Linked DNA regions of Homo sapiens: regions 2, 3, 4 and 5 are each reported to be linked to region 1. The links are microRNA targets in miRTarBase. Many come from high-throughput screens and were not tested one by one. Region 1 holds a microRNA gene; each other region holds the end of a gene's coding sequence.

What was found. Region 1 holds the annotated microRNA hsa-miR-486-3p (CGGGGCAGCUCAGUACAGGAU, at 2,210-2,230, shown strand). A microRNA usually pairs through its seed, bases 2 to 8, with sites in the 3' UTR of a target mRNA and lowers its output. Matches are read on the target gene's strand: a 7mer-m8 pairs with bases 2 to 8, a 7mer-A1 pairs with bases 2 to 7 and ends in A, and an 8mer does both.
Region 2: miRTarBase lists ZNF787 as a target of hsa-miR-486-3p. Seed matches in the 3' UTR shown: 7mer-m8 at 2,430-2,436.
Region 3: the mRNA of FZD7 is a reported target of hsa-miR-486-3p. Seed matches in the 3' UTR shown: 7mer-m8 at 1,036-1,042.
Region 4: miRTarBase lists CD276 as a target of hsa-miR-486-3p. Seed matches in the 3' UTR shown: 7mer-m8 at 264-270, 8mer at 809-816, 7mer-m8 at 1,508-1,514 and 8mer at 1,640-1,647.
Region 5: miRTarBase lists REPIN1 as a target of hsa-miR-486-3p. Seed matches in the 3' UTR shown: 7mer-m8 at 1,076-1,082.

What each region holds. Positions count from the first base shown.
Region 1 is chr8:41,659,673-41,662,672 of GRCh38, reverse strand. MIR486-1 (microRNA 486-1) reads left to right here and starts at 2,165; the gene lies at 2,165-2,232. ANK1 (ankyrin 1) reads left to right here. Exons shown (of 43, transcript NM_000037.4): 41 at 732-797; 42 at 1,109-1,243. The coding sequence ends at 1,207. MIR486-2 (microRNA 486-2) reads right to left here and starts at 2,229; the gene lies at 2,166-2,229.
Region 2 is chr19:56,085,382-56,088,381 of GRCh38, forward strand. It overlaps ZNF787 (zinc finger protein 787), which reads right to left. Exons shown (of 3, transcript NM_001002836.4): 3 at 1,985-3,000. The coding sequence ends at 2,642. Among named protein-coding and RNA genes, the nearest start is that of LINC01864, 20 kb to the left of the region's middle. RefSeq lists enhancers at 1-131, 132-631, 967-1,566.
Region 3 is chr2:202,035,910-202,038,909 of GRCh38, forward strand. It overlaps FZD7 (frizzled class receptor 7), which reads left to right. Exons shown (of 1, transcript NM_003507.2): 1 at 1-2,532. The coding sequence ends at 463. Among named protein-coding and RNA genes, the nearest start is that of FZD7, 3.6 kb to the left of the region's middle. RefSeq lists an enhancer at 2,696-3,000.
Region 4 is chr15:73,712,769-73,715,768 of GRCh38, forward strand. It overlaps CD276 (CD276 molecule), which reads left to right. Exons shown (of 10, transcript NM_001024736.2): 10 at 166-1,746. The coding sequence ends at 188. Among named protein-coding and RNA genes, the nearest start is that of CD276, 30 kb to the left of the region's middle.
Region 5 is chr7:150,372,418-150,375,417 of GRCh38, forward strand. REPIN1 (replication initiator 1) reads left to right here. Exons shown (of 3, transcript NM_001099695.2): 3 at 1-1,622. The coding sequence ends at 528. REPIN1-AS1 (REPIN1 antisense RNA 1) reads right to left here and starts at 526. Exons shown (of 4, transcript NR_183429.1): 1 at 424-526. RefSeq lists enhancers at 921-1,040, 1,101-1,250.

The DNA of each region.
Region 1 (3,000 bases):
TCCCACTCAGAGCACACGGCAGATACAGAGTAAAGGGTTTGAAGATTTGGACAGGTGAATACGGGAATGGGTGGGTGAAAAAGAGATGCCCTCTGCCCTTAGGCTCATGGGAGTAGAATGGGGAAGAGCACAAACTCCCATCCATATCAAAAAGCAAAACAGAAGGCTGTGGGCTCGAGGGGGAGGTCACACCCAGTCACACCTTGGTCATGAAATGACACTGCCAAGGCCCCTTCAGGGCTGTCTAGCAGAGGGTTTTCCATTAAGCAATGGGGCAAAGGCTGTCCCTCTTCTTGGCCTCTCAAGGAGGGGCTCCTAGGACAAAAGCTACCTCCCCCTCGGAGCTCATTCCTGGGAACTGCTGTTCTGAAGCTCTGTCTTGAGGGCTTGACCAGCCCCCCCGCCTTTTTTTTTTTGACACAGAGTGTTGCTCTGTCAACCAGGCTGGAGTGCAGTGATGCAATCTCAGCTCACTGCAACCTCCATCCACCAGGTTCAAGTGATTCTCCTGCCACAGCCTCCTGAGTAGCTGGGATTACAGGCACCTGCCACCACACCGGGCTAATTTTTGTATTTTTAGTAGAGACAGGGTTTCACCATGTTGGCCAGGCTGGTCTCAAACTCCTGACCTCAGATGATCTGCACGTCAGCCTCCCAAAGTGCTGAGATTACAGACATGAGCCCCCGAGCCCGGCCTGACCAGCCCTTTCCTCCTTCCCTTCCTTTCCTAGATCATTCGCAAGGTGGTTCGACAGATAGACTTGTCCAGCGCCGATGCCGCCCAGGAGCACGAGGAGGTGACTGTAGAGGGGCCCCTGGAGGATCCCAGTGAGCTGGAGGTCGATATTGATTACTTTATGAAACACTCCAAGGTACTGAGGCGCCCGCGGCCCTGGGGGACCCAGCGCCATCACTGCTGCCTTGCTCTGCCGGGCCGTCTGCATGACACCTCCCTCCACTCACCTCTTTATGAGCTCTCTCTCCAGTCTCTCTTCTCCCTGGTGGGCAGTGTGTCTGCCACCTCCGTGTGGCCTCCTTTCGATCTTCTGCCTGTGTTCTGCCCGTCTTTGCGATCTGTCCTGCTTTCTGTCTCTGCTGCTGTCTGCAGGTGGAGCTGAGAGGGAGTGGCCTACAGCCGGACCTGATAGAGGGCAGGAAGGGGGCGCAGATAGTGAAGCGGGCCAGCCTGAAAAGGGGGAAACAGTGACCCCGAGCCGCTCTCCTTGGAGTAGCCTCTCGGGAGGTAACGCTGCCCTTCTCATCCCCTCTGCATGGCCTGGTCTTCAGTGGAGTGGCTGCTCCCTGTCTCACCCTATCCCCTCCCAGCCACCCCAGCATGATGTGGGACAAACAACTTGTTGTTGTGTCTCGAGGCAGAGATTCTCACTTCCCAACCCTGCTAACAGTTGGCTCTGAACCCCAGCTTCCTCATCAAGGAAACAGAGTTAATAATATCCACTTATCAGGGACCGCACGGTTTTGTAAGAATGCCTTTTGGGCCGGGCACAGTGGCTCATGTCTGTAATCCCAGCATTTTGTGAGGTCGAGGCAAAAGGATTGCTTTAGGCCAGGAGTTCAAGACCAGCCTGGGCAACAGAGCAAGACCCCATCACAAAAAAAAGAAAAAAAAAAGCCAGAAAGAAAAAAATGCTCTTTGAAAAGTAAAAGCACTCTGTAAATCTAAGTGGTAATATTATCTTGGAAACCAAGCAATGGGGATCTAGAAAGCAGTGGACAGGGCATTGAAGAGGACAGGAGAGTTGGTCTGGGCTGTGATGCTTCAACATAAGAGCTCCAAGACTGAGGACTGGACTGTCTCTTGAACCTGGAGCCCAGCTACAGTTCTCACCAGGCCAAGGCTTAGCTTCTCTTTGGTGTTTTGTGAAACACGTTGCTCCCTTGCTTTCTAGGAAAGGGCTGAGCCGACAGGCCTAAGGGGTGGACGACGTGCTTTCTGCAAGTCAGGAGACCGTCAGGGTTGGGGCCGGGGCCTGGGCTGTGGTGCATGTGTGTGAGCATGGGGCAGTGTGGCCACAGAGCAGGGGCATGCCGTGCCGTGCCGTGCCATGAGGAAGGGACATGAAGACGCTGTGCGACCATCTCCAGCAGGTGTGTGTGGTGCTGGGGGCTTCAGCGGCCGGCTCTGATCTCCATCCTCCCTGGGGCATCCTGTACTGAGCTGCCCCGAGGCCCTTCATGCTGCCCAGCTCGGGGCAGCTCAGTACAGGATACCTCGGGGTGGGAGTCAGCAGGAGGTGAGGGGGCATGGTGGCCCCAGTGCAGCACTAACCAGGCCGTTACCATTCACACCCCAGGGCCTGACTCTGGGACCGAGCAGCAAGGAGGCTCTAGCTTTCTGCATTCGGCAAAAATCAGGGCCCGCTGCCTCCTGAGCCACCAAAAGTGCTGACTCTGGGCTTCCCAATATATCTCAGCACTTGGGCAAAAAAGAGGACTGGCAGATCCAGTTATAGGATAAAATTAGACCTGACACCTCAGCAGCTTAAGGAGGTCACCGTGTTAACCCCTGCACTGCCAGGGGTCCCACTAGGCTGCTGGTTTAGAAGACTCTGAGTAGCTGCTGTTGGGTCCTGGAAAGAACCCAAAGATGCAAATAATGTTTAAAAGCAGCAAAGGGAAAGGAAAAGTACACTTTTCTGACTTATTTTTCTTATGGTAGCAGTGGCGGCTGTGGCTTTAAATTTCTCTTTGGCTCAGGCTCTATGGATGCTCCTGAGTGGGAGAGAGGCAGCCCGAAAGCCAGGCTAGGGGGAAGGAGGGAGCCTTGAATTTCATTTTAATTTGCCGTAAGTGATCTGCAATGTGGCTGAAGCCCCCCAACCTCAGGTGATTAAGGACCGGACCACACTAGCATGGGTGTCAGAAACACGGAGCAGCCTGGCTCTGGGACAGCACTTGGCCCTCTGTCAGTGACAGGCACAGGGACAAGTGTGAGGGTGGCAGGGGGGTGGGGCGGTGGGGCGAGAGCAGTGGTGAGGG
Region 2 (3,000 bases), not on the chromosome of region 1:
ATGGAGCGGCCGCCTAGCCTCACCTTGCCGTGGGTGAGCAGCTCCAATGCAGGTGAACTACAGGGCCGACGGCAAGTGCCACAAGAACCCATGTTCCTTTCTTTACCTGGGACCCACGCCGTGCCTACTGGGCACGGAGCTGCTGCCCAAAACACATTTGTAGAATGAGTGAGTGAGGGGTGGGCAATGACTACCTGAGTGCATGAATCAGTAACGGACAGCGTGTGACACCAAAGCACAGGTCAGGTGTTGGGTCCGGTGCAGGCTGATGTCAAGGTGGTCATGTGAGCTCGCTCAGTTCTGTATTACAAAGTGGGATGAGTAGTGCAGAGCTGGGATTTGAGCCTGGCTCCTCGCCCCTGCATCTTTGCTCATGCCTGGGAGGGCAGCTCCAGTGAGTTAACACATGGCTTGGGGATTCCCCCCTCCACACACAGTCATACAAGGCAGGCAGGCAAGCTCTCCTTTCCACAGGGCAGGAAGCCAAGGGTCAGAGAGGTTAGTCCACTTGCCCAGGGTCACACAGCCTTAAGGGGCAGGGTGGAAACTTGCCCTGAATCTTTCTTGCTATAGGTGTCAGCTCCTGCCACCATATACTGGAGCAGGTAGAAGAGGCTGACCCGAGACTCAGTGTGCCCGACTTATGGGGCACCGAGCTGCCAATTCTACCAGACAGGGCACCTCCCATCCTCCCAGGCCTCCAGAAGTGCCCAAGGCCAGAGCTCCACAGAAGGACCCTAGGAGAAGTGAGCAATGCTTCCTCAGTCTTTGCTAACCCAGCCCACTCTGAACTGCCAAGGTTCACCCCCTCCTTTCGAGTGACCTGAAATTTCAAAAACTGACATGCAATACCAATTATCTAAGCAAGGCTCTGGCCACTTGAGAACACGCTTTTTTGATCCACAATCACTCCCTAGTCCTCTAACAAATCCTCCAGGATCTGTAGACCATCAGTGGCCCTGGTTTCTAAACCCCCTGCCTCCAGATGAGGCCCCAGGACCCTCCTCAAGCACATCAGGGTGTGAAAGGGCAGATTAAGGGCTCTAACTGGAAATCCGAATTTCTCCTTCAAGTCCCCCTCTACTATGAAACCCCCAAGTCAAAGACGCCTGCAGCTTGCCGCCTCCAATCGCTCCTGAGTAATCGCAGCCTTCAGCCAGGTTGAAAATACCCCTTTGGGACCCTCACTGCGGCCTCCCAAGGCCCCAGGAACATGGGTCCTCAGGACCTGGGCTGTGGGTCCAGGAAACCAGTCGCCATGGTCGAGCCCCCTTCTGATCATGAACAACAGCGCTCACCTGGCAGGGCGGCTGCAGCGGCTCTACCGGACCAAGCCCCTCGGGCACGCGCACTGCCTGAAATGCCCTAAGCGCTCGGCTGGACTGTGGCATACCCGCCCTCTCCCCCAGCCCCTGGCTGGCTCGTCTGCCTGGCCCCTGCAGCAGAGACAGCTGAGCGCACCATCCTCCTCCCGTAGGGGGCGGGGGGTCCTGTCCCCGGAGCGGCAGCCGCCGGGACCTCATCTCCCAGCCTCCTTCGCAGGGAGCCGCAACCACGGGACCAGCCCCGTGAACGACCCAGGTAGGGGGACGTGCGCCCTTTGCAGTCAGAGTCTCCCCCAGAAGCTGGAGGCAGGAGGAGGGTGCTTTTGGGGTTAGGGGCGGGGGCCACACGATAGGAGTGGAGGAAGCCAGCCGCCCCTGTGAGAGGGTGGTAGAAGCCGTGGGGGCTCCTTCCCCTGCAGCGGGCAGGCCTGGCCCTGACCAGTCCGCCCTGCCCCATCTACAAGCAGCTCCCAGGCCCTGTGAGTGCCCGCACCATAGTGAGGATATCCGCGGACAGGCCCCCCTGCCTAGAGCCCTCCGCGGGCGACCCAACGGGCCACTCCCGGGGCGCGGCTGACGCTCTGCTGATGCCCCGGCGAGAGCCTCCGTTTACCCCTCTTGCCCTTCTCCCTCCCGGACTCAAGAACCACGCAGAGGGGGACATTTGGATAGTGCCGTTTATTGTTCCAGCACCCCTTCCTCCACCACGCCCAGGCCTGGGACAAACGGGCACCCGCCTCCTGCGGCGCTGCCTCTGCTACCCGGAATCCAGGAGGGGAAGGAACGACTCGAGCTCTAAGGATGGGACCCGGAAGGCAGAAAAAAATAATGGATTGGGGCGGGCGGGGAGTCAAAAGGTGGGCTGATTAAAAGAAAATTCTAAAAGAGAAAAGGGCCCCTGGTTCTCTTCCCTCTCTGGGATCCTCTAAAGGGCCTGGTTTCTCCATTCCTCGCAGCACCCCCCACCCCCGCCCCGGACAACTGAGGAAGAGCAGGGAAAATGGCCTTCCGCTTGGGGCCTGGTCGCCACTCGGCCTCTGCAGTTCTCTCCATTGTCTCTCCGGCTCGCAGGCCGATAACTTAGGAAGGGCGGGCCAGGCTGAGGGGGCAGAGTCTCGAGGCGGAGAAGTGAACGGGCCCTAATACGCCCCAGTGCCCCCCCACGGACGGCGCAGGGACAGAGGAGGGCGGGGAGCCGGGGATGCCGCGGGGTCCATCGCACCCCGTCCGCTTCTCCCTGGGTCTCTTGGTCTTGCACGTCGTCGCTCCCGCCAAGCCCGAGGGGCCCTGCCCGCCCCCCCCCCCGGGCCCCTCCCCTACCGGCCCTCCCCACCGCGGCACTCGGGGCACCGCCCGCCCGCGGCCTCGTCGTCGTCGTCCTCCTCCTCCCCGCCCGCGCGGTAGTAGCTCTGTCCGCAGCTGCTGCAGACCGAGGGCGCGCCCACCGCGTGGATCTTCTTGTGTCTCCGGAGCGCGGCGCCCTGCACGAAGCCCTCCCCGCACTCCACGCAGATGTGGGCCGGCTCCTCGCCCCCCGCCGCCCCGAGCCCGTCCCCGTGCTGGGCCCGCTGGTGCGCCAGGAGCCCGGCCCCGTGCCCGAAGCCCTTCCCGCACTCCAGACACACGTACGGCTTGGGGGCCGGGGCGCGCCGCGACCGGGGCCCCGCGGCCTTTG
Region 3 (3,000 bases), not on the chromosome of region 1:
GCGGGGCTTCGTGCTGGCGCCTCTGTTCGTCTACCTCTTCATAGGCACGTCCTTCTTGCTGGCCGGCTTCGTGTCCCTCTTCCGTATCCGCACCATCATGAAACACGACGGCACCAAGACCGAGAAGCTGGAGAAGCTCATGGTGCGCATCGGCGTCTTCAGCGTGCTCTACACAGTGCCCGCCACCATCGTCCTGGCCTGCTACTTCTACGAGCAGGCCTTCCGCGAGCACTGGGAGCGCACCTGGCTCCTGCAGACGTGCAAGAGCTATGCCGTGCCCTGCCCGCCCGGCCACTTCCCGCCCATGAGCCCCGACTTCACCGTCTTCATGATCAAGTACCTGATGACCATGATCGTCGGCATCACCACTGGCTTCTGGATCTGGTCGGGCAAGACCCTGCAGTCGTGGCGCCGCTTCTACCACAGACTTAGCCACAGCAGCAAGGGGGAGACTGCGGTATGAGCCCCGGCCCCTCCCCACCTTTCCCACCCCAGCCCTCTTGCAAGAGGAGAGGCACGGTAGGGAAAAGAACTGCTGGGTGGGGGCCTGTTTCTGTAACTTTCTCCCCCTCTACTGAGAAGTGACCTGGAAGTGAGAAGTTCTTTGCAGATTTGGGGCGAGGGGTGATTTGGAAAAGAAGACCTGGGTGGAAAGCGGTTTGGATGAAAAGATTTCAGGCAAAGACTTGCAGGAAGATGATGATAACGGCGATGTGAATCGTCAAAGGTACGGGCCAGCTTGTGCCTAATAGAAGGTTGAGACCAGCAGAGACTGCTGTGAGTTTCTCCCGGCTCCGAGGCTGAACGGGGACTGTGAGCGATCCCCCTGCTGCAGGGCGAGTGGCCTGTCCAGACCCCTGTGAGGCCCCGGGAAAGGTACAGCCCTGTCTGCGGTGGCTGCTTTGTTGGAAAGAGGGAGGGCCTCCTGCGGTGTGCTTGTCAAGCAGTGGTCAAACCATAATCTCTTTTCACTGGGGCCAAACTGGAGCCCAGATGGGTTAATTTCCAGGGTCAGACATTACGGTCTCTCCTCCCCTGCCCCCTCCCGCCTGTTTTTCCTCCCGTACTGCTTTCAGGTCTTGTAAAATAAGCATTTGGAAGTCTTGGGAGGCCTGCCTGCTAGAATCCTAATGTGAGGATGCAAAAGAAATGATGATAACATTTTGAGATAAGGCCAAGGAGACGTGGAGTAGGTATTTTTGCTACTTTTTCATTTTCTGGGGAAGGCAGGAGGCAGAAAGACGGGTGTTTTATTTGGTCTAATACCCTGAAAAGAAGTGATGACTTGTTGCTTTTCAAAACAGGAATGCATTTTTCCCCTTGTCTTTGTTGTAAGAGACAAAAGAGGAAACAAAAGTGTCTCCCTGTGGAAAGGCATAACTGTGACGAAAGCAACTTTTATAGGCAAAGCAGCGCAAATCTGAGGTTTCCCGTTGGTTGTTAATTTGGTTGAGATAAACATTCCTTTTTAAGGAAAAGTGAAGAGCAGTGTGCTGTCACACACCGTTAAGCCAGAGGTTCTGACTTCGCTAAAGGAAATGTAAGAGGTTTTGTTGTCTGTTTTAAATAAATTTAATTCGGAACACATGATCCAACAGACTATGTTAAAATATTCAGGGAAATCTCTCCCTTCATTTACTTTTTCTTGCTATAAGCCTATATTTAGGTTTCTTTTCTATTTTTTTCTCCCATTTGGATCCTTTGAGGTAAAAAAACATAATGTCTTCAGCCTCATAATAAAGGAAAGTTAATTAAAAAAAAAAAGCAAAGAGCCATTTTGTCCTGTTTTCTTGGTTCCATCAATCTGTTTATTAAACATCATCCATATGCTGACCCTGTCTCTGTGTGGTTGGGTTGGGAGGCGATCAGCAGATACCATAGTGAACGAAGAGGAAGGTTTGAACCATGGGCCCCATCTTTAAAGAAAGTCATTAAAAGAAGGTAAACTTCAAAGTGATTCTGGAGTTCTTTGAAATGTGCTGGAAGACTTAAATTTATTAATCTTAAATCATGTACTTTTTTTCTGTAATAGAACTCGGATTCTTTTGCATGATGGGGTAAAGCTTAGCAGAGAATCATGGGAGCTAACCTTTATCCCACCTTTGACACTACCCTCCAATCTTGCAACACTATCCTGTTTCTCAGAACAGTTTTTAAATGCCAATCATAGAGGGTACTGTAAAGTGTACAAGTTACTTTATATATGTAATGTTCACTTGAGTGGAACTGCTTTTTACATTAAAGTTAAAATCGATCTTGTGTTTCTTCAACCTTCAAAACTATCTCATCTGTCAGATTTTTAAAACTCCAACACAGGTTTTGGCATCTTTTGTGCTGTATCTTTTAAGTGCATGTGAAATTTGTAAAATAGAGATAAGTACAGTATGTATATTTTGTAAATCTCCCATTTTTGTAAGAAAATATATATTGTATTTATACATTTTTACTTTGGATTTTTGTTTTGTTGGCTTTAAAGGTCTACCCCACTTTATCACATGTACAGATCACAAATAAATTTTTTTAAATACAAAATGAACATTTATTTAGTTTACTATTCCTGTAATATTAAACCAAAGAAGAGAAAGAAGGAAAGTATGGGAAAATAGTATGGAGGGACAACATTGGGTGTGTCCCTCAAAGAGAATGGTGTATATTATTGAGGTCTTTTTTGCTCCCGCCTTTAAGATAGAGTATAATGAATGCCTTGACTGTCATTTAATTTTTTTTTTCCTGTTGTTGCTGCTTCCTGCCTTCCTCCACACCACCCCACTACATACCCCTAAGCCTTTTTACATCCTGCTTTGGATGACTATTGAAGGTATTGAATAAGCATCTCTTTTAGAGAAGTGCTGTCTGATCTATGTTTTTACTGCCCTTAGGAGATGAAATCCATATTCAAAAGGGACTAGAAGATAGTGTTTATATTTGCTGCTTTTTTTGGTAGTGTTTCCCTTGTGAAGAATACAGTGAGTTTTTGGGTGTTTGGTTTTTTGTTTTTTT
Region 4 (3,000 bases), not on the chromosome of region 1:
GGGCCGTGGTCAGCACGGGGGCTGTCCGTTGGGCTGCTGTCTCACACACACTCCCCACTTGAAGTCTGACCAGGTGCTTGGGCTTCTGGCATAATCCCAAAAATAGATCTTCTGGCATCTAATGCTTTTCCCTTCCCTTTTTTTTCTTCCCATCATGAAATGAAGATGATGGACAAGAAATAGCCTGACCATGAGGACCAGGGAGCTGCTACCCCTCCCTACAGCTCCTACCCTCTGGCTGCAATGGGGCTGCACTGTGAGCCCTGCCCCCAACAGATGCATCCTGCTCTGACAGGTGGGCTCCTTCTCCAAAGGATGCGATACACAGACCACTGTGCAGCCTTATTTCTCCAATGGACATGATTCCCAAGTCATCCTGCTGCCTTTTTTCTTATAGACACAATGAACAGACCACCCACAACCTTAGTTCTCTAAGTCATCCTGCCTGCTGCCTTATTTCACAGTACATACATTTCTTAGGGACACAGTACACTGACCACATCACCACCCTCTTCTTCCAGTGCTGCGTGGACCATCTGGCTGCCTTTTTTCTCCAAAAGATGCAATATTCAGACTGACTGACCCCCTGCCTTATTTCACCAAAGACACGATGCATAGTCACCCCGGCCTTGTTTCTCCAATGGCCGTGATACACTAGTGATCATGTTCAGCCCTGCTTCCACCTGCATAGAATCTTTTCTTCTCAGACAGGGACAGTGCGGCCTCAACATCTCCTGGAGTCTAGAAGCTGTTTCCTTTCCCCTCCTTCCTCCTCTTGCTCTAGCCTTAATACTGGCCTTTTCCCTCCCTGCCCCAAGTGAAGACAGGGCACTCTGCGCCCACCACATGCACAGCTGTGCATGGAGACCTGCAGGTGCACGTGCTGGAACACGTGTGGTTCCCCCCTGGCCCAGCCTCCTCTGCAGTGCCCCTCTCCCCTGCCCATCCTCCCCACGGAAGCATGTGCTGGTCACACTGGTTCTCCAGGGGTCTGTGATGGGGCCCCTGGGGGTCAGCTTCTGTCCCTCTGCCTTCTCACCTCTTTGTTCCTTTCTTTTCATGTATCCATTCAGTTGATGTTTATTGAGCAACTACAGATGTCAGCACTGTGTTAGGTGCTGGGGGCCCTGCGTGGGAAGATAAAGTTCCTCCCTCAAGGACTCCCCATCCAGCTGGGAGACAGACAACTAACTACACTGCACCCTGCGGTTTGCAGGGGGCTCCTGCCTGGCTCCCTGCTCCACACCTCCTCTGTGGCTCAAGGCTTCCTGGATACCTCACCCCCATCCCACCCATAATTCTTACCCAGAGCATGGGGTTGGGGCGGAAACCTGGAGAGAGGGACATAGCCCCTCGCCACGGCTAGAGAATCTGGTGGTGTCCAAAATGTCTGTCCAGGTGTGGGCAGGTGGGCAGGCACCAAGGCCCTCTGGACCTTTCATAGCAGCAGAAAAGGCAGAGCCTGGGGCAGGGCAGGGCCAGGAATGCTTTGGGGACACCGAGGGGACTGCCCCCCACCCCCACCATGGTGCTATTCTGGGGCTGGGGCAGTCTTTTCCTGGCTTGCCTCTGGCCAGCTCCTGGCCTCTGGTAGAGTGAGACTTCAGACGTTCTGATGCCTTCCGGATGTCATCTCTCCCTGCCCCAGGAATGGAAGATGTGAGGACTTCTAATTTAAATGTGGGACTCGGAGGGATTTTGTAAACTGGGGGTATATTTTGGGGAAAATAAATGTCTTTGTAAAAAGCTTTTTCTCTGTGAAGTGTTTGGAAGCAGGGTGGGCCCCAGGACTCAACCAGCAGGATTCTCTCCTGGATGTTGCAGGCTGGGGTAGGGAAGCCTGGCCCTCCTTATCTCACCGTCCTTAAATCACTGGATCCCCAAGGCCATTTGGCTCCCTCCTTGGCTTCAGTTTCCCTCTGGGTAAAGTGAAGTTGGTTGTCCAGAAAGCCAGGCCCTTTGGTCACTGTATGGGGCTCCTCCCACTGGAAGCATCACTCAATTTCTTTGCCTCAGAAAACTCAAACCTAGGCTTGTTTAGGGCCTCTACTAATGAACCCATTTTAGAGACTGTGAAGCTGAGACCCAGTAAGAAGCTGGCACCAGGAAAAGAGTTCTGAATGCTGTTTCTGGCTGACTCAATTGGATGGGCACCAGGCCAGGGATCAGAGGTCCATTCCCAGGACATAGTTCTGCCCTATGACCCTGAGCAGGACATTTACCTTCTCTGAGCCTTGGCTTTCTTGTACAAAAAATAGCCACCTATGCATAGTGGCTCATGCCTGTAATCCCAACACTTTGGGAGGCTGAGGTGGGAGGATCGCTTAAGGCCAGGATTTCAAGACTAGCCTGGGCAACATAGCAAGACCCTGTCTCTGCACAGAAATAAAAAATTAGCGAGGTGCGGTGGCACCCACCTGTAGTCCTAGTTACTCAGGAGGCTGAGGTGGGAGGATCGCTTAAGGCCAGGATTTCAAGACTAGCCCGGGCAACATAACAAGACCCTGTCTCTGCACAAATAAAAAATTAACTACAGGCACACACCTGTAGTCCTATTACTCAGGAGGCTGAGGTGGGAGAATCACTTGATCTTCAGCCCAGGAGGTCGAAGTTGCCATGAGCTGTAATTGTACCACTGCATTCCAGCCTGGGCAACAGAGCAAGACTCTGTCTCTAAAGAAAAAAAAAAAAGAAAAGAAAAATAGGACTGAGGTTTTAACTACCTTCCATTTTGAAAGACTGAGAGGAGGCGCACAGGCTTCCAGAGAGCCAGATTCAGGGCTATGGGAACCTGCCTAGGATACTGCGTTCGCTTGCCCCTGGATGACAGTGTCCTGGCACTGGGACAGCCTGGAGCTTTGCAGACCCTGGGCAGCAGGAGGAGCCTGTGCTGGGGGTGAGGACACTTGACTTTCAATCCTGGCTCTGCTGCTAACCTGTGTCCATGTCCTTCATACCTCTGAGCCTTACTTTCCTTATCCATTAGATAGGGGTGACAAG
Region 5 (3,000 bases), not on the chromosome of region 1:
CACCAGCGGCAGCACACCGGGGAGCGGCCCTTCACCTGCGCCGAGTGCGGGAAGAACTTCGGCAAGAAGACGCACCTGGTGGCGCACTCGCGCGTGCACTCCGGCGAGCGGCCCTTCGCCTGCGAGGAGTGCGGCCGCCGCTTCTCCCAGGGCAGCCATCTGGCGGCGCATCGGCGCGACCACGCCCCCGATCGGCCCTTCGTGTGTCCCGACTGCGGCAAGGCCTTCCGCCACAAACCCTACCTGGCGGCGCACCGGCGCATCCACACCGGCGAGAAGCCCTACGTCTGCCCCGACTGCGGCAAAGCCTTCAGCCAGAAGTCCAACCTGGTGTCGCACCGGCGCATCCACACGGGCGAGCGGCCCTACGCCTGTCCCGACTGCGACCGCAGCTTCAGCCAGAAGTCCAACCTCATCACCCACCGCAAGAGCCACATCCGGGACGGCGCCTTCTGCTGTGCCATCTGTGGCCAGACCTTCGACGACGAGGAGAGACTCCTGGCCCACCAGAAGAAGCACGATGTCTGAGACGGTGGGCGGGGCCGTGTTGGCTGAGAGAGGGCTGGGGTCCTTCGTGGTGGGAGTCGCAGTGGGCTGGGGGTGCCTGCCTAGTGCTGGAGTAGGGGACAATGGGAATCCTAGAGGGGATGGAAGACGCGGGGAGTGAGCTGGGTGGGCCCTGCTAGCGAGAGAGGTCAACCCCGGTGGCCAGGGAACCCACTTCCAAGCGCAGGGACGCCGGCCTCCAGCTGGTGTGTGCTAAGGCTCCGTCCTGACTGCCCTGTGCCCTGGAAAAGCAGCAATAGCATCCGCCCCTTAGAGCCCTCTGGCTAGAGGAGCCACCAGTGGAAAGGAAGACCCTCCATCCTCTGGTATTAACGCCTTAATGCCCCTGTCTTTTACTGTAAGTTACTTAAGATCATTTTTGGAAGCAGGCGTGGTAGAGTCCTGTAAATGAATGCTCTGGGCTAGATACAGCTTGGAGAACCTGCTGGCCTTGTTAGACAGCACTTGGGCCTTTGCCAGCAGCAAGAGGTGAAGCGAAGCCACTCTTACCTCTCCCTTCCCCTCCCACCTGCCCCCTGCGTAGGCACCCAGACTTGGAGAGACCCGTCTGCTGTTAATACTTCCATCCTCTTCCTTCCCAAAGAGCAGATCCCAAGGCATTTACTCCTTGGTCTGTCTCGCTTTATCTGTCGCCCCTCCCAGCGCTGAGAGCCTCCCCTGGCTGTCAGCAGCACTGTGTCCAGGCTCTTGTCTGAACACCGCAGCCCCTCCTTCGCTCCTTCCAGAGCTCAGCATGTCACGGCAAGGACTGCCGCATTGGTGATGGAGGGCCAGCTGAGGGGAAGTTGCTGGTGAGTTTCCTTTTCTCCATTTCTAGCATATGGACACCTGGCCTCTGCTTGAGCACTTAGGTGACAGGAACTTCCGCACCTCCTGAGGCCCTGGATGATTCTAATTGTTAGAAATTCTAATTGTTAGAAATCCTTCCTTATAATGAATGAATTCTGCTTTCCTATAATTTCTACCTATTGGGCCTTGTTCTGTTCTCTGGAACTAAACAGAACAACCATTTACCCCTCCTTTTCAAACTAGAGAATAAAGATTTGGTTTTAGAACTGGTGGCTGGGGAGTGTTACTTTTTCTGGGGGAGCTGCGACATGTCAGGAGGAGCAGCATGCTCTCCTCCCTAGAAGGACGGGGGGCTGTGGGTGGGGCTCTGGCCACAGGCCACATGCCCAGCTTGCTGAGCTCTGGCCCCCTGCCTCAGTTCTTCCCTGAGCATACCCAGGCAGTTGGGCTAATTCTCTGGGTGGTGGGCCGAAGCTCCAGAGAACTGTGGTGGGTGGAATGCTCTCAGCTTGGTCCCAAGATTTATGTTCTTGGTCACTTGCCCTCCTAGATGGGCCCAGCAACACCTAATCTTTCTCACCACCTGGGCCTTTATGAAACTACAGCAAGCACTATGAGCTCTTTTGAGGGGTGCTGGGTGTTAAACGGACTTTGGTTATACTTGGACTGTGCCTCCAGTAGTCCTTCAGAGGTTGGACAGATGAAGGAGCCTCTGGGAGGGGAGGCTGTTCCCTGCAGCTAAGACAGCACTCAGCTTCCACACTCCACACACCAGGGTTTCAGCCTTCTTTGAGGTTGTTGTCAAACCCAGCCTGGGTCCACTTGCCCAGTGTTTGCAAAGCCTAACACCGACAGTGAGATTTGCAGCCAGAGAAAGTAAGGCGTTTATTGCAGAGCACCAGGCGAGGAGAATGGGCAGCTAAGGCTCAAACTCCCTGATGGCTTTTAAGCAAGGGTTTTTAAGGCAGGGGTGGGGAGGTTTCAAAGGGAGTTAGGGGCTGAGGAATTTCTGGAACTTCCTTATCCATTTTCTGGTTCCAGTCTGTCTGAGGTCTACGTGCTGGCATTGTCACGTGGTGACATTGGTGGGGGTCCTGGCTCCTGAAAAACAACTCAAGGATATATGTCAAGATGTTATCTTTAGGCCAGGCATGGTGGCTCATGCCTGTAATCCCGGCACTTTGGGAGGCCGAGGTGGGTGGATCACCTGAGGTCAGGAGTTCAAGACCAGCCTGGCCAACATGGTGAAACCCCATCTCTACTAAAAATACAAAATTAGCTGGGTGTGGTGGCGGGCCCCTGTAGTCCCAGCTACTAGGGAGGCTGAAGCAGGAGAATTGCTTGAACCTGGGAGGCGGAGGTTGCAATGAGCTGAGATCGTGCCACTGCATTCCAGCCTGGGCAACAGAGTAAGACTTTGTCTCAAAACAAACAAACAACCCAAAAAACAAAACAAACAAAAAGATGTTATCTTTAGTTTCTATGAGGAAGCTAACATTCTGTGACTACTACTTGAGTGACTATTGTTTAAGCTATTATTACTTTCTTGCTTAGCGGGTTATTCATTCATTTCCCCAATTCATGGTTGTAGAGCTAGCTAGGTGCCTGGAATTTCCCTGGGAGGGACTCACATTTTTGTTTATT